Linked DNA regions of Homo sapiens. The protein of the gene in region 1 interacts with the protein of each later gene in a biochemical or structural test. Each region holds a gene or a part of one and is shown in the gene's direction. Other genes may lie near its edges.

Region 1 (8,699 bases):
TTTTGGTTGGGCAGAGCTGGAATATGTGTTTGCTCTGAGAATGAAGAGAACATGGAGGTAGCCGGGCGCAGTGGCTCACGCCTATAATCCCAGCACTTTGGGAGGCCAAGGTGGGCAGATCATTTGAAGCCAGGAGTTCAACACCAGCCTGGCTAACATGATGAACTCCTGTATCTACTAAAAATACAAAAATTAGCTGGGCGTGGTGGCAGGTGCCTGTAATTCCAGCTACTCGTGAGGCTGAGACAGGAGAATTGCTTGAACCCAGGAGGCGGAGGTTGCAGTGAGCTGAGATCGTGCCACTGCACTCCAGCCTGGGCAAAAAAAAAAAAAAAAAAAAGCATGGAGGAGTTTTCTGGTACTGGGTTCCACAGGGAAAGCACATGCTAATTAATTCCACCTGCTTTGCCTCAGTCCCTTCCTCATAGATAGCACACACACTCACCTTTAACTTAGATTTGCTTCATCTCCTACTCAGGGTGTCTTAACAAATATGCAGAATAGGATGTGTGATTGGAGGGGAGGCACCATGCCAGACCAAAAATAGCTTCCTCTGAAACAGGTGTGAAGGTGCTTGAGGTTCTGCCGTTATAATTCGCTCTCTTCAGAGACTGTATGCTGCCATTGAAATCCCAGCTCCACCAATTTTAACTGTGTACAACCTTAAGCGAATTATCATTCTAAGCTTGGCTACTTCCTCTGTGTAATGACCTCTGATCCAGCCTAATGGGACTGCAGGATTACCATGGGGCCTGGCACATACCAAAGGCTGAATACATGTTGCCTATGATTGGGTCAAGCATTGCCTTCAAAATAAAAAAGGCAGACACTTCTGGCAGTGCCAAGGGTGACCTTGGTGTGAGTTAATTGAGCAACTTTTCCTCTATAACAGGAAGGACTTTACGGCAGGAAGAGCAGCTGGGTGGGAAAGGGATTCAGGGGAACATTGGTGAAAGAAGCCACAGTCCTGGCAAGACGAGGGACTTGAGCCCTCCTGGAGCCCCCAACCTGGCTGACTGTCCTGCTCTTTTCCTGCCCACTCCAGGCTGGCCTGCCACTCCTCCTGCTATGATGCCTGGGCAGATCCCGGACCCTTCGGTGACCACAGGCTCCCTGCCAGGGCTTGGCCCCCTGACCGGGCTCCCCAGCTCGGCCCTGACTGTGGAGGAGCTGAAATACGCTGACATCCGCAACCTCGGGGCCATGATTGCACCCTTGCACTTCCTGGAGGTGAAACTGGGCAAGAGGCCCCAGCCCGTGAAAAGTGAGGTGAGCGAGCCTTTTACCCCTGGCAGATTCCAGGTCTGGCCTTAAACCCACCATGGGACCTTAACCTTGCTGTTCAAAGTGTGGTCTGAGGACCAGTATCATCCGTACCACCCTGGGGTTATCAGAAATGTGGAATCCCAGGCCTCGCCCCAGGCCTTCTGTATCAGAATCTGCATCTTAACAAGATCCCCCAGGGATTCGTGGACGTATTAACACTTGAGAAGCACTGGGCCAGGGGAGGATGTTTAACCTGTCTCTGGTTCTCTGGGGGGCGGTGGAAGAGTGATAATAATGACAGTAATGAATAGTAATATCTTGGCCATCTCTCTGGGGTGGTGGGAGGATTGGGGAGATAATGGGAATGGGAATGTGTACATGTTTTGAAAAGTAGACAAGAGAATGCCAATATTAGGTTATCTTTTAAAATTGTTATCATTAGTCACATCGTGACCTCCACCCCTCTTGGCCCTTTCTGCAGCTGAACCAGGGAACTTGGAGGAAGAGTAGCGTGGCCTCCCTTCCCAAGCAGCTGCCAGAGCTAGGCATGGCCTCGGTCAGCCAGCAGTGTCCGCCTTAGATGGCGTTTGCCCGGGACCCACACGTGGAGCACCCACATGTGGCATTTGCAAGGAATTCCTCCTCAGGTCCCTTGCACCTGCAGCTCTCATGAGCCCTTTTTCTCGGGGCACTGGTGAGCAGCAGCAGTCCCCGGCATGGCTGAGGATCTGTGCAGGGCATGCCCCCGGCGACTTGCCCAGGGCTGGCCGTTTCTCTGAAGGCCTGTCCCAGCAAGGTTCCCAGCAGCGCCGTTTCTTCAGAGGCCTGCCAGAGTAGCTGCCCCCTGGAAAGGAGGAGCCTGTGGTGGGAGGTGGGGAAGAGGCTGGGATCGGGAGGGCGCAGGAAGCAGCTGAGCATCTGGGAATGGTAGCTCTGCTTGGAGGGAGAGTTCACAGGCAAAGATGAGCCTGGGGGGAGCTCGGAGGGCTGAAGTGCTGGAAGTGCTGGAGAGAGGACTTTCTTCGTGGAGAAGGGTGTCTGGGTACCCGTAGGGGAGAGCTGGGGATATTAGGCAACTATCTCTCAGCTCCCCTTCTCCTGATAGGTACCTAAAAACTGCAGAGGACTGCTGGGGGCTTGGCTGTGGTGGCAAACTGGCCGTGGTGGCAAACTGGCCATTTGCAGGCTGGACCTGGCTCTCAGATGTATTTTGTTTGGCCGGCTCAGTGTTTTAAAAGAAACGCGAACCCCCATTTCATTTGAAAATTTTGATTAAAAAATTGTAAGATCTCATCATACACTACCCTGTTCTGGCATGGTAATGGCTAAGTGGGGTGGACAGAGGCACTTCACTGTTTCCTCTTTCCAGTGGGCCACAGGCCCCTGCACCTCCCTGTTATTCGTGATCCTACTTACATTGTTGGTTTTGCTTTTGCTACTACCATCTGCCTTCATTTACCTCTACTGCCTGGTCCCTGTTAGCCATTTGTGCTCAAGACACGTGGATAAGGTCCATCATAGGTGCCTACTAAAGACTGTGGATTACAAGCTGTGAGTTGATGGTGATTACATTCTTCTGAATTGATCTTGTAAGCCAATGTGTCGTTGGGGCACATCCCGGCTTATATAGTGTTCTGTCTTCACGATGGAGGGTCCTTGTCTTTTGGCCCTCTGCTCCTCACCTTCCCAGGTCTGTAACTTGAGAGCATCTGTTTCTGGATCATTCCACAGTAAAATTGCCATTTAGAGCCAGTAGCTGAGCAGTTTCATGGGGGCACTAAGGCTGCGCATGGGGTTGATGAAGAGCCAGGTGTCTTGGGCAGAGGTCGTCAAGCTGGGATTCGCCTGGGGGGCTGAGTTAACACCTCTCTCCTCTGCAAAAGGCACTGGAGGAACTCTTCCCTTTTTTTATTTTTTATTTTTGGAAAAGCCACTTTTATTTGGGTTGGGTATTTTTACATTTTACAGCCACCCCCAAATTGGTGGCATCTGCCCTGTACCCGACAGTGACGTGCTGTCCTCACAGGCACCCACAGACGTGCACCATCCAGGCCGCAAAAATAACAAGCCGTTTTTAGGGCATATTTGCATGTCCTCTCCCTCGCTGTCAGACTGCAGTGTTGTGGGGGCGAAGAGGCAGATGGAGCTGCGAGATTGTACCGATGTAGAGAGATGCCAGCCCTGCACTGCGAACCGACCTCCAAATGCTTCCTAGGTCAGACCCCAGGGGCGGGAAGAGCTAATTCTTGGAGTAACTAAAACCTAAAGCGGGGTGGGGAAAGAAACTTGCAGCTGAAGAATCTATGGTCTGAAGATCTATTTGCATATGGCAAACTGCCTTGAGCGGATTTTCATATTGGCATTTTAGACTAGTAAAAGTTTCTTTAATAATAATCAGATACTAGCTCATTAAGCATTTAATATGTCCCAGGACCTGCACAAAGTGCTTAACATGCATGACTTCATTCATTCCTTATTCAGTCCTGGAGTCCAGGTTACCCCCATAGTAGAGAAGAGTTTGAGGTCTAGGGAGGGGGTTCAGTCACTCAGGGTCACACTGCTGGGAAGTGATAGCGCTGGGGCCTGGTGTGGTGGACGATGGCTGCCGTTACAGCCGGGTCTCACTTGTGCTGAGCTAAGCCCTAGGCACGGTACTAGGTCTCTTTGTGAAGTACCTTGTTTACCCTGCACAAGTACCCTCTGAAGTAACTAGTGTTGTTGCTGTTGTTATACCCACATTACAGATGAGGTCAACAAGGCTGAGGGAGGTCCAAGGTCACTGGCTGGGAAATGAGCTCAGGCAGTCTGCCTTGAGCCCAAGCTTTAACCACATGCCGTGTGGCCTCCCATGCCTCTATACCCCTTCCAGGCTTCTAACCAGAGCTCTGTTGAGCTGGGGAGGCTGGATGAACCTGGCCGCAGAATGTTCGATCATTTTGATGACATTGTCTGATGAGTGCTGAGCCCTGCAGTCCTGCAGCCTTACTGTCTCCTAGTTCCGAGAGAGAGAGAGAGGGAGAGAGAGAGAGAGAGCGAGAGAGCGAGCCGGCTGAGCCGCTGTGCGGGCAGCTCTGTCAGAGCTGGTTCTTGGGTTGTTTGCCTTGCAGAGGCCAGCAGTCTCCTGGGCTCTGTCCAAACGCATGGAGCAATTCAGTAAAAGAAAATGGGAGGAATTAAGTTCAACGACAGGTTTTGTGAATTATAAAGTGCTTTGTGCTGATGTCATTATTATTACATGGTCAACACATGACGTTAAACTGTTTTGGTGCCAACTGCTTGCCTGCAGTCCCTTTGTTCAAGCCATATTTGTTAAGCATCTACTATGTGCTGAGCACTGCACCAGGCACTGGGAACAGAGCTACAGATAAAGCAGTCAAAGCCTTACATCTCTCGGCACCGTATATTGCAGTGACGGCATCCAAAAGTAAGCAAATTAATACACGATATATAAGGTGAGTTAGTGGTCAGCACCACGAAGAAAAATTAAGCAGACCAAGGACGTGGCAGTGGTAGGACTGCTCATTCTGATGGTTGGCCAGGGACCCTGGGAACGTCATTTCCTGGGTTGTGGGATTTTTAAAGCTGTTGCTTCTTTCTCCTTTCTTTTCTAGTATTCGCTTTCAGGACAGCTTTGCTCTCTGGCTTTCTCCAGAGCTTTCCTTCCTTGACTTTTCCTCTGTAGCCCCTCACAGCTGGACTCCTCCACCAACCAGTCCCTATTGGCCTGAAGATCTTGGCCCTTCCCAGGTCATCTCCCAGCGAGCTGTGGCTGTGGTGGTCACACCCTGCCTCTGGGTCTGGAATGCATTTTCAGTTGGGAGGGGAGGGAGGCCTGAAGCCCCACCCTTGCACACACACATAGACACACCAGACACTTACTAATCAACCTGCTAGACAGGACCCCTCACCCTCTCGCCACGTCTCGGTGCTCTAGAGGGGACTCAAGAGTTCAAGGGAGGCTAAACTGGATGACCTTTCAGGAAAGAGGCTGCACACTGTCGTTAAGGGGCAGGAGTCGGCCTACAGATGAATCTTGTTCACAGGGTGGTTTGCTTTTTCTTTCTTTTTTAACAAAATCACAGTGTGGTTTTCTTTTTCTTTTTTAAAAAATTGAATGAATTGCCATATTTAAAAGCCGGGAAATGTGGACTCTCTGGCTTCTTTTAAAAAACCAGAATATCTACCCACTTAAGGCCACACCCTTATACACAACAAGAGGTTGGAGCTGAGGGGCAGATGCCTGCTGTATTTGTATACAGCCTTGAGTTCACCGCATTCCCCACTACTCACTGATGTCTTACCCCCAGCCCGCTTCATACCATCTGTGTTGCCAGCCTGATTTTGAGTCTGTGTCCCATGTTTATGTCCCACAGACCTTGCTTGTTTGTTTGAACATTATGAGCTGTGTCAACTTGGCAAGTCACTTAAACTTTATTCCTTGATCGCTCTACCTCCCAATTCTTATCTCCAGCCATTGTTCATTAGGTTTTGCTATTTCCAAATTTCGTTGACTTCAGGCAGAAAAAAACAAAATACAACAAAAATCAAACCAATCATTCCCAAACGTGGCTGGTCATCAAAACACCTTGGGAAACTTCTTAAAAAGTATAAATTTCTAGACCTCACCCAAGGTCCATGGAATCAGAATATCTGAGGGTAGAGTCCTGGGAAGCTGTATAGCTAGTAGGCTCAGAGATGACTCAGCTACTTTTGGGAATGTGACTCTTTGCGGTTTCTTCCTCTCCTCAGGCTCTTCTGATCCTTGTCAGGGAGCTTTCTGGGGGTGTCACCCCGAGGAATCGGTGCATACGTATCATTGTGGACTGCCCTTTCCAACGTAGGGCAGTTTCCTGTGTGTATTCCACATGGGGACCGGATCCGTGTCCTCATCATTTTCAGAGCTGGAGAGGAGACTTAACTGTCTGTGGATTTCACATTGGCGATTTCCCATCTTCTCCAGGGTCCCTGGAGAACATTGAGAGGGTTTTCCCGTTTTGGATGAAGTGTGAATAGGAATCCATGGACCAGAGAGCGGCCTTGGAAGCCATGTTCACTCAGCCCCAGGTGGTCTTCCCAGACTTTGTTCATAACAGAGACCAAGACGTGCATCCATGTTTAGCCTGAGCAGAAAAAGTTGCCCCAAACCAGCTGATGTGCTGGGTAAATGTTGGCCTAAGCATGCTTGTGTTTTTAGTGATTTGAAACGTAAAGGCAGCCCACTGACATTTTTTAGCAAGCTTTGCATAATTGGTTTTTAATTGTGGCTCTTTGGAATAGCATTGGCCTTCTTCCCCCTGACTCAGATGCTTTTTTTGTCTCATACTTGTTTGGCAGAGAGGTCCAATCTGTCCTCTCTTGGAACAGAATCTCCCAACTCATCTTTGAAATCCGTAATTTCCACTTTAGTTCCGTTACTTTGTTAGCACATTTTCGAAAGCTGTTAGCTTAAAAAAAAAAATTAAATTTGAGGGAGAATGAGTGATAGTTAAAGGCAGCTATGAGTGTGTTTAACATTGGCCCCTGTGGTGTTGAGTCTTATTTGATACCATATCCAGAGCATTCACAAGGGTTCTGAAGCTTTTATTTAAAATCAGAAGTCGGTCACACCCACTGTTATCCTAGCACAGGGTCCCTTGGAGAGGTGGTGGTGAGGACGTGGCTGGATCTCTATGTCCTTAGCAGAAATCAGACACCTCTGAAAAGCTCAGGAAGTCTTACAGCTTCTTAGGTTTTCTATTAATATCTTAAAGTGAGGATAATAATAATACCTACCTCTTAGTGTTGTTATGAATTTTTTTTTTTGAGACAGATTCTCACTCTGTTGCCCAGGCTGGAGTGCAATGGCATGATCTTGGCTCACTGCAGCCTTGACCTCTTGAGCTCAAGAAATCCTCTCACCTCAGCCTCCTGAGTAGCTGGGACTACAGGCACATGTCACCATGCCTGGCTAATTTTTGTATTTTTTGTAGAGATGGGGGTTTTGCCATGTTGCCCAGGCTGTTTTTGGACTCCTGGGCTCAAGCGATCCTCCCATCTTGGCCTCCCAAAGTGCTGGGATTACAGGCGTGAGCCACCAACCCCTGTTGCTGCTATGATAATGAAATGAACTAATGCTGCTAAAGGTTTCACATGATGCCTGGCACTTAGTAAGACACAGATATAAGGTAGGCTTGTGACTCACTTTTCAAATGTGTTGATCGTGCAAAGTAGTTTTTATAATTGAATCAAAAACCTGTTTCTTGGGCTTGTATTGACCTGAGGGTATTTTGTCCTCGGAGATGGTGGGTGGTCTGAGGCGTTGCAGGAGCAGGGCACATCCAGGCTTCCTAACCAGAGGGGCTACTTCTGGGGCCTGGGAAGAGTTCTGGGCTTGGGTGCAAGTTCTGGGTTCAAAGTCTGGCTCTCTCGCTCATTCCCAGCACAACCTTGGGAAAGTTAGCTCGTTTCCTCATCTGTAACAGGAGAAAATCCAAACTGCCCTTTCCAAAGTAGTACAGTTTCCTGCACATACTGCACATGGTGACTGGATCCACATCCTCATCACAGAGCTTCATCGCGAAGATTAAGTGAGGTGCTGTGTGAAAGATGACCTTGACTGCAGTGCAGTATGTCCGTAAATTACCTTTGTTAGAGACTGATTCCATGTGTAGTGAACTACCTATTCTGACAGCACTAACCTTTCTGAAGTATTAGCCTATGACCTGGGTTTCAGGGAAGCAAGCAGACTTTCCAGTTTCTGGTTGTTTATGCAGTTTAGACGCAGCTGGAGTTTTAATTATCATAACAAACTATAAATGAGAAGGCTTTTCAAGCCTCTGTTTTCCCCTAAGCTGCCTTCTGTGACCCCTTATCTTGTTTCCTGTGGTGTTAATGTCATCGTTGTATTCCCATCAACCAACAATCTTTTAGCAGCCTTAAGAAGGGCTGTCAAGTCTTCTGTCAATCCTACCATCTTACTTTGATGTTTCCAGGTCCACCGGCAACATGGACTCAGAGTTGGGAAACTGAGTCCTCTCCTGGGTGAGGCTCATCTGGCTGAACAACTATGAAGCCATTTAAGTCTGTTTTCCTTCTACTGTGCCCAAAAGGCACAAGGCAACCTGGCCTGAGGTTGGAGCATGGAGATCTAGAGGAACTCATGGATGGATTCAGGCGGGATGTGAAAGTGCTGGGAGTGAGGGCCTGGGCCTCCTCTGGGTTTAGCCACCCTTCCAGGTTGTGTACAACCTGCCATATGCTGGGGCTCATTGACTGTGCTCTGCTCTGTGGCTACAGGATCCCCTTTTACTGAGCGTAGTGCATGTGTATGCTCTGACAAACTCCTCCGTGGTTTGCCTCTGTAGTCCTCCCTACACCCTACCAACTCCCCAGTCCCCGCGAATAAAAACCCTTGCCTTTTTGGAGGCAATGTAGCAAAGCAGGACTGCTGCATT
Region 2 (8,699 bases), on another chromosome or scaffold:
TGTTGGGCGGGGGTCATTTGTGTTCCCGCATAGTGGGGGAGGGGGCATCAGCTATAGGAGCTGGGGGTAGTGCAGTCGGTGCTGAAGTACCAGCTGCTCTTTAATAATTAATTCTTCCTACTCACATCCCTTTGAGGAGGGATGTCTGGAACACAGCATTAGGCTCAGCCAGCCTGCTAGAGGACGCACTCCTGTTGGTGGCAGTAGGGGGGGGAAGGGGGAGACAGCAAGGGGGGGTGGTTCTTGGCATTTTTGGAGCACTGTAGCTTGCTCATGAATGAAAACCTGATGTAGCCCGTGAGGGGGCCTATTGTAGCCGACTTTAGCTAATTAAACTTTCTCTGCCTTTCTTCTTCCCTATCCCACCTCACCCCAGGCCCAGCCGCAGCCCTTTCTTGAATGGGGACCCTGCCTGGTAGTGCTGGGAAGAGGGTATCATTCTGCCTGAGGTTTTAGGGCAAACAGACCCCGTCTTCTGCCCTCTGCCTCCGCCTCCTCCCTTCCTCCCCTCTCACCACCCCCCTCTCTTTTTTTTTTTTTTTTTTTTTCTAGAAATAGCAGCCTCCTCCATCTGGCTTGTGCAGATGCCTGGAGCTGCGTCTGAGCAGACAAACAGAAATGGGCCGATTGCAAAAATGAATTTGTCAGCCTGGTGCCTTTTTTCCTTCCCTGTCACCCTCCCCCTTTCCCTGGTTTGGGGCCTGGACATCCAAGTCAGCCACCCTTCATGGCTCTGATCCTTCTGGGCTTCTGTTGGCCTAGCTTGGGGGAGGCACTAGGCAACAGAAGCTCTCAGAGGCTGAGGAAAGTGGTAGGCTGTGGCCATGGTCAGGAGGGGTCAAGATAAATTCCTAGTGCCTTTGACCTTTGGGTGGGATGTCTTGGCTTGTAACTTTTTTTTTTTTTTTGAGATGGAGATTCACTCTTATTGCCCAGGCGGGAGTGCGATGACACAATCTTGGCTCACCGCACCTCTGTCTCCAGGGTTCGAGTGATTCTCCTGCCTCAGCCTCCCGAGTAGCTGTGATTACAGGCATGCGCCACCACACCTGGCCAATTTTGTATTTTTTTAGTAGAGAAAGGGTTTCTCCATGTTGATCAGGCTGGTCTGGAACTCCTGACCTCAGGTGATCCGCCTGCCTTGGCCTCGCAAAGTCCTGGGATTACAGGCGTGAGCCGCCGCGCCTGGCCGGTTTGTAATTTTTGATGAAACTGTCGGGGTAGAGTGAAACAATCTCAGACTCCCAAGACTTGATTCACACTGCTTGACCCTGTCACCTATGACCTAGGGGGTACCCTGGCCTGGGGCCAGAGCAGGTGTGTTGGGAGGGGGTTGCATGGTGGTACTGGACTCCAGGATCCAGAGAGGGTCTTCAAGGGACACCTGACTCCCCAGGAATTTTGAGGGAGTTGTTTGAGGAACAAGATCTCTACAGGGTAACATTGTGAACCTATGGCCTTTGGAGCATTGCTTTGTACCATGTGCCCCTCACTTGTCTGCCCTCCTCCACCCACCCTTTGCCAGAGTTTGGGGTTTCCACCCTACTTCCATAGGCTCAGCCCTGAGCTTGTAGGGTGAGATGTAGCCTGTTTCCTTCATCCTTGTCCGGCTGTCTTGGCTGGATGTGGGAGGTGGTTTTGGATCCCGGAGTGGGGTAGGGGTCTGTCTGGAAGAAAGAGTTGGTGTGAGGTAGTGGGGTGGGCAGGGGTCTGTCTGCTTATGATGTCCTGGAAGTTGGGCCACTCCCTGGTTTGGCATCCAAGTGTTAGGTCATCTGGGACACAGCTCCTGGTGTCCCTGACTTCCCACTGAGACCCAACAGATTTCTCTGGCAGATGTGGGAACAAACAGCTCAGGTTTTAAACATCAGGCTCCCCTTCTCCCCTTCATGTCCCACCCCAGACAGGAATCTGTGCTTGTCCCGATCAGACCATGAACACTGCTTTGTTTCTCAGGGAGGCTCAGCCTGTGGCTCTGGTTCACTTGGGAGACTTGATGGGGGTGTTGGCAGACACTCTTTACAGGTGGACAGGGCCCAGGGGCCCAGGGATCCTGCTGAATTTTATAGGACGGGGAGGAGTAGACGTAGATGAGTCCCGAGCCCACCATGAGTTCAAGGAGCTGCTCCCTTCCTCTTCTGCCTCAGGGGTGAGGATCAGCATCTTTAAGACCCACAGAGAGAGTAGGTGGGTTAGGATGATGGGGGCTAGGGGCTAACCTTAACCTGGTTTCTGTGCCACTGGGGCTGTGCCCCTTCTGAGCACCTTGCTGTGGAGGTGCCTCTCACTGTGGAGATGGACTGGGCTACTCAGGCTGCTGGGAATCGTGGGCATTTCTGAACCTGTGTTCCCCAGCCCACGGGAAAGGGTGTGAGCAGGACTGGGTGCCAGCCTTGGTGTGGGCACAGGCTGAACTGCCTGCCCACGTGGGCCCTGCCAGAGCACCAGCAGCCCTACCTGCCACATTCCTGAGCTTGGCCTCAGCCCTGCCTGCGCAGCCTTTTTTGTCTTAATCCCATACCTGTGCCCGTCAGGAGCAATTTAGCCCCTTCAACTCTGCCCCCCAATCTGAGTGCACCTTTCTCCAGCCATAGAGTCCAAGCCCTGTGGTCCCAGCAGCAAGCCTGGGACCTCAGGGTCTCGTGTGTGCATGTGTGCGTGCATGCGCATGTGTGTTCATGTTCTTGTGTTTCTGCCATAGCTGGCTTCTGGGCTTCTGGGCTCCAAATGGACCCCACCCTTGGGAATCTGATGAGAATGTAAGGCTTACTGAGAATTAATCCTGCCAGGAGGTGGGGCTGTCTAGGGGGGCAGAGCTGATTGCTGGTTCGAGGCTTGGGGAGCAGAGTTAGGGCTTAAACTCGCAGCAGCTCACAGCCTCCTCTGATGGCTTCCTGCTACCTTGCTTTCATTGGGTATTGGAGGGCCTGCCTTCATTTGGAAGCAAATGAATGAGATCATGTCTGGGGTGGATCGTGGGCCGTTTAGGGATGGGCCAGGTGTCTGTATGCATAGTGTCTGAGGCTTGAGGACTAACTGTGGGGGAGAACTGGAGGAGTGGGCATGGGTTGGCAAAGCCGTGGTCCTGTAATACCTCCTCCTTTACTATACTGGCCTCAGCAGGGCTACTGCTGGGCCTTTTGTTGCTTTCGTACAAACTGGGAAAAAATCGTCCCTTGTTTTGGGTGGACTCAGCATGTCAGGCCATGGCTTGGCAGGCAGGGCACAGGCTGGATTTCGTATCTCCCTGGGCCAGACCTCCTTACACAGAGCACAACCTGTACAATATACACAAAGTGCTGGGCTTGGGCCCTGCACCTGCCAGGCCAAGGGTACTAGATTTGGGATGGAGAGGTCTCTGACTTTCTCAATTCCTGGAAAGAGAAGCTCTTGTCCTGGTCTGTTGTTGAACTGTGGGAGACCAAAACAGAAGCACATCCATATTTCCAGAGCTGGGTGGCACAAGGATCAGAAAGTCGGGAGAAGACCCCTAGAAGTCCCAGCTTAGGCTATGGAGGCTGGGATACCAGTTTCTCCCTTCACTTCTGCCAGGGACTCTAGATCAGCCCTGCATCTCCCCACTGCTATGGATACAGATCAGAAGCCCCCCTGCACTTTCTCCTTTGGTGCACACCTAGTCCCATGGCAGGCACTGTTGGGAGTCTATAGGGTCTCCCCAGCTGGCAGTAGACACTCACCTGAAAAGGGGTCTGTTGGGTTTGGCCACCATAGCCATTTCCTATCCCTTGGGCTCTGGGAGCCTCATCAGTTAGTAAGATAAGAAACCAGGGTCTATCCAGTTCTGCAGATTTCTCCTGTGGCTGTGGGCAGGTATCCCTCCCTCTCATCCCTCATCCCCAGGTACAAACTGATGAGCTCCAAGGTCTCCTTCGACTCTCAGATTCCTGAGTTAGGGGCCTCTAACCCTGCTCCATCTCTCCCCAGGGATGCCGTTCTGAGTGCCTGACTGCCTCGCCCCGAAGGATGGCCTCGGATGGGCATTAGAGGCACGGCGGCCCCGGGCTCCCGTCCCGTCCGTCTGTCTGTTATCGTCTGTCTCTCTTGACATCACCGCAGCTCCACCCCCTCCCGTCCCAGCCCCCAACGCCAGCTTCCTGCAGGCCCAGAGCCGGCATGAACTCTCCCAACGAGTCGGGTAAGAGCTGGGAGGTTGGAGAAGAGCACCCTGGGGTAGCTTCGGATGCAATGGGCTGTGTGGGTTTCCCTTCCAGGCCAGCTGACCTTTACTGTCTGAGCTATAAGGGAATGAGGGGGTAAGGAGTGGAGAAGTGTTGCAAGAAAGGGCCCATGAGGTAGACCTGGGAATCGAGGGATCGATGGTCCGGTCTGGTCCTGGGAAGGCAATGGGTCCTACTCTGCCCCCCATGCTTGCCCTCTCAACTTAGGGGTGTTCAGCTCCAGCTTCGCCTTCCCCTGCTAGCCAAGACAGGTGGGCCTGAGGGGGCAGTGTGTATCCCTTAATCTCTCTGGGCAGTCTGGGATGATGTTGGAGGAATTTCTTTACTATAGCAGAATGCTCAGCTTCCTTTTCGTGATGGTGGCTTCTTTACTTAGTGGAATGTTTGTGTTCCATACTTTTTTCTTAGTGGAGGTTTACAAGGGCACTGGGCCTTAACCTCCGTGTGCAGGTGCGTGGCATTGGGTGGGAGTGGGGTGACGTGTGTAGAGGAGTCTCGGCTCTCCTCTGAGTCCAGGTAGACTGCCTCTCTTCCTCTTGGGCCCTTCATATGGTAGATTGCTAATCTGGGGTCTTTTACTCTGAGATTTCCTGTTCCTCTTTGTTCCTAGGACCCTGTCCAGTGCTGCCAGAAATAGTCTATTTGGGGGACTCTAGGCAGCTTGATGTGCAGCTGGGTCTGGATGTATGCCTGTGAGGCTGTGTTCTAGTGGCCTGAGCTGGACCCTCAGCAGTTTCCCAGGAGGGTCCTGGGGCAGTGTGGTCAGAGTAGTGGCTGTCGTCTCCTCCTCCTCGGGTGTCTCCTTCCACACAGTGTTAAAGGTCCATCTTGCTCAACTTTAGCTCTCCACGGCCCATCGTACTCCTCATCTTTTTTATGTAGGGGTAGGTGGATATTTCTCCTTTTAGAGATAGGGCAATTGGGGCCTAGGATGAATACCCATTTGCAGGATTGTACAGAAGCAGCATCAGGGAGGAATCCAGACCACCCCACATTTTCTTCCCCATCATCCTTTCTGTAGGGTTTGCTGTTCTCCTTCAGATATTCCTCCCTCTGCCCTTGCCCTCATTCAGCCCCTAGGGGCTGGGACAGGTGGGCTGCCCAGCTCTGCCCTCTTGCTTGCCCCTCTGAGGCTGGATGGCGAAGGGAAAGGAGAGGCCTGGGTCCTCATCTGTCCCTCGTGCATCTTGGCTGGACACTACCCCAGCAAGCTCAGCCATGTCGGGCAGTAGTGCCAGCTACTTCTTTCCTCTGAGTTGTGACGCTGACCTGTCCAGGAGCCATCTGCAGTCCCTGCTTCCCATGGGGCTGGGGTCTAACTCTTGGCCAAGGGAATTGAAGCTGCCTAGCGGCATCTGTTGGTGGCTTGGAAAGGATTTTTCCCAGCTTTGGGGTTTCTTTCCCTTGCAGGGAAATGTGATAATCAACCCAGGATAGATGAAGTTATTGGGTTACCTTTCCAGATGCTGGCGGTCCAAGTTTCCCTTGCAGCTACCTCTGTGGGAGCTGACAAGAGTGTTGGAGGAGCTGGACGTGTCCACCAACGCAGGAGGCTGGCAGCTTGAGAGCCACTGCTGAGCCCTGGCCAGGAGGGGCGTCCTGAGTGGGCCTGTGGAATGGGCCCCGCGTCCTGCCTGGCTTTCCAGCTCCCCCCAGCAGGGGGAGATGCTGTCTTCTCTGTGTTGGGGAAAGAAGGAAAAAAGGAGGGGGCCAGGGATTGGGAACCTCATTTTAGGATTGTTGAGAGGCTTTGGAACTGGGGCCACTGCTTGGGGATGTTTGCTTGAGGCCCTTCCTGCAGAGTGTTCCTGGGGTTCTGGACTGGCTTTCCCAGTTGTGGGGTTCCAGCTGCCCTGGGCCAGGGAGATAGTCAGCCTCCCCCCAGCTCTTCCTTTCTGAGGGGCCTAGCGTCTGCTATTCCCAGAGCTTGGGCTGGCATCTGGGCTAGGGCTGGGGTGCCCAGCGCCTGGCAGAAGCCTGGAAACCACATGCCTTGGAACTCGGCGGAAGTAAAGTGAGACCACCGATTGAAGCCAGAGCACGCGGGTGTCCACTTCCCTGTAGAGAGCCCCAAGAAGGAAAGGTATGGGCCATGGGGCAGGAGATAAGAGGTGGGAAGGAAGGAAATGGTTAGTCCCCAGGGTCTGCTGCAGCCCCTGAGCGCCTCCCACCTTTTCCTCACTTCCCTGAACACTTGCTCCTCTTTCCCCAGAGTAAAGGACAGTAGGCTTTGTAAGGGGCAGAGCTTCTGGTTCCCCTCAAGTCCTCTCAGCGTAGGAGCTTTTCAGTTTGGCAAGTCCTCACTGAGTATCACCAACAGGCTCAGCCTGTGGAAGACAGAAGAAAATATGAGATGGGCCATCCCTGGTCCTCACAGTGAACATGTTAGCAAGAGAGACTGTTTTGGTGAGGGGCAGCAGGTGGAGACTGTGAGTGATTTCCTTCTGGGGCCCACTGCCCAGGAAGGTGGGAGCTGATGACTTCCCTCTGGCTCGGGCTGCCTACCAGCCTTTGACTTTATTTACCTCTTTTGCAGTCTTGGAATCACAGGCGGAGGCTATTGATGGGGTTGCCTGCTTCCCTGAGACCATTCCCTGATCTCTGCCTTTTCTTCCGGCAAAAGGGGGTTTGAGGATTAAGGCTGTCTTTATTTTTCTGGAACTGTTTGCTTCTGCATGTTCTCCTCAGTGGGGCTGAAAGGCTGACAGAACTTTCCCTCAGCTCAGACTCGGCCCAACCAGGTTGGAGGAGCTGCCCAGGGGCCTGGGACCCAGGCCAGCTCTGGTTGTACCCTCTTTGTGCCATTGCCCAGAAGAGCAGGCAAGAGTGAGGCCCACTGTGCAAGCCAGTCTGGGTGGCAGCGGGGCCATGGAGGAGGCGGCCAGGATCCTTCTCCCCAGTGTGGGAGGGAGACAAGCTTCATGACAACACCTGCCTGCCCAGCGCCTCCCAGAACCTTCACACTTTCTCTCTTTCCCTTTTCCAGGATGGAGGGCAGCAGCCCCCCCCCCCCACGCCTGCTCTCTGGGTGACCAGAGAAACTGGGGCATGGGTGTGGGGTGGAGCCAGGAACCTCGGTGTCCTGCCTTCCAGCCTTGGGCTCTGCCTCCTTCAGAGCCCCCAGGGAAGGCAGGCAGTGAGAAAGTGGGTCAATCCTGGCATGGGGCTGGGGTCTGAGAAGTAGACTCCTGGCCTCCCTTCTCTACTGAGATGCCCCCTGGCACACCTCTGTGCTCACTGCAGAGCGGGACCTGCTTCTCCCCTCCTCTTCCCTGCTCTATCATTCCAAAGAGATTGAAGGCTTAGAATGGAATGGCCAGAGAAGGCAGGGTCAACCCTGAGGGGAAGTAGAAGATGCCAAAGTAGGTGTTCACATTTTTCCTGGACTTGGCTTCAAATGAGAGGGTTCAGCCAACACCTAGCATGGGGCCTGGCTGGCACATGGCAGCTCCCAGGCCATGCTGATGGGCTCCAGCATGACTGGGCTCGAAGGGCAGGAAAGAACAGGAGGGTGGGCAGGTCTGATATCTGGGTCTCAGGGAAGCTGGCATCTCACACTTCATCCAGGGTGCTCCTGGGCCAGCCATTGGCTTTTTCACTGCACACTAAGCAGACCTTGCTTTCTTCCCTTTGGTCAAGGTCCCCCCATCCCCACAGCCTTTGGGCTCAGGAAATGGAACCTGGAGCCAGGGTTAGGCTCTTTTCCTCCTTCAGATTCAGAGGGCTAGGAGGTCAGAGTGCAGCCTTTGAGGGAGGGGCAGAGTGAGTCTGGGGAAGACAGTCCTGGCTCTGGGTGAAGCTCATGTACCCCATGCTTGGTGGGTGCTCCATAAGGTTTGTGGGATGATACATGGGTGTGCTGGTTGGGAGAGAACGGAAAAGAGAAGTGAATTGCAAGGAGGGGGGCTAAAGCATGAAGGATTGAAGTTAGACATTAGGAGGACCTTGTATCACCTGAATCTCAGAAGAAAAAAAGACATTTGTCCCCATCCCAGATCTCCTCTCTTATTGCCTTGGAGGGTTCTGGGAATTGCACTGAGGATTTTCTGACTGTGTCTGATACTTTGCTTCCTACTTGTTGGAGGCTGTAATGGTGCTGGGAGCTGGCTCCCCAGCTCCCGGCTCCAGCCACCTCTGGGTGTCCCTGTCCTGGGTGCTACTATCTTCCCTAAGCAGGAAGTCCTGTTTCCTTCAATGTCTGGGTGCTCCAGGTTCTGGGGGCCCTGCTTTTGAGTCCTGGTAACTGACGCCTTCCTCTTCTTTAGAATAAGGCTCTCCTGCCACACTCTCCTATGCCTGGGGCAGGCAGAGAGAGCTGGGACAGGGCTAGCCAGCCCTTCTGGTTACTCCTAGCGTGGGTGGGAGGAGTCCTGGGCTGGGAGGGGTTGCTGCTCTTGGCTTTCTGGGCTCCCTTGAATCTGCTGCCCATCACCCCACTGATGGAGACCTTCCCTTCCCTTCCTCTTGAGAGGGCCTGGTTGGCCAGGATGAGGTTGGGGC

The links. Proteins that work in one complex are often made in the same cells at the same time.
Region 2: the proteins of JDP2 (region 1) and HDAC5 form a complex in vitro, tested with the Homo sapiens proteins (one study listed by BioGRID).

Annotation. Positions count from the first base shown.
Region 1 is NC_000014.9:75,436,853-75,445,551, forward strand, and holds part of JDP2 (jun dimerization protein 2), read left to right. Parts: intron 1-1,045; coding exon of another isoform or gene 1,046-1,068; coding exon 1,069-1,269; intron 1,270-8,699. UniProt on the Homo sapiens protein: Component of the AP-1 transcription factor that represses transactivation mediated by the Jun family of proteins.
Region 2 is NC_000017.11:44,112,951-44,121,649, reverse strand, and holds part of HDAC5 (histone deacetylase 5), read left to right. Parts: intron 1-1,054; exon of another isoform or gene 1,055-1,212; intron 1,213-1,546; exon of another isoform or gene 1,547-1,663; intron 1,664-3,945; 5' UTR 3,946-4,134; coding exon 4,135-4,156; intron 4,157-5,654; exon of another isoform or gene 5,655-5,738; intron 5,739-8,699. UniProt on the Homo sapiens protein: Responsible for the deacetylation of lysine residues on the N-terminal part of the core histones (H2A, H2B, H3 and H4).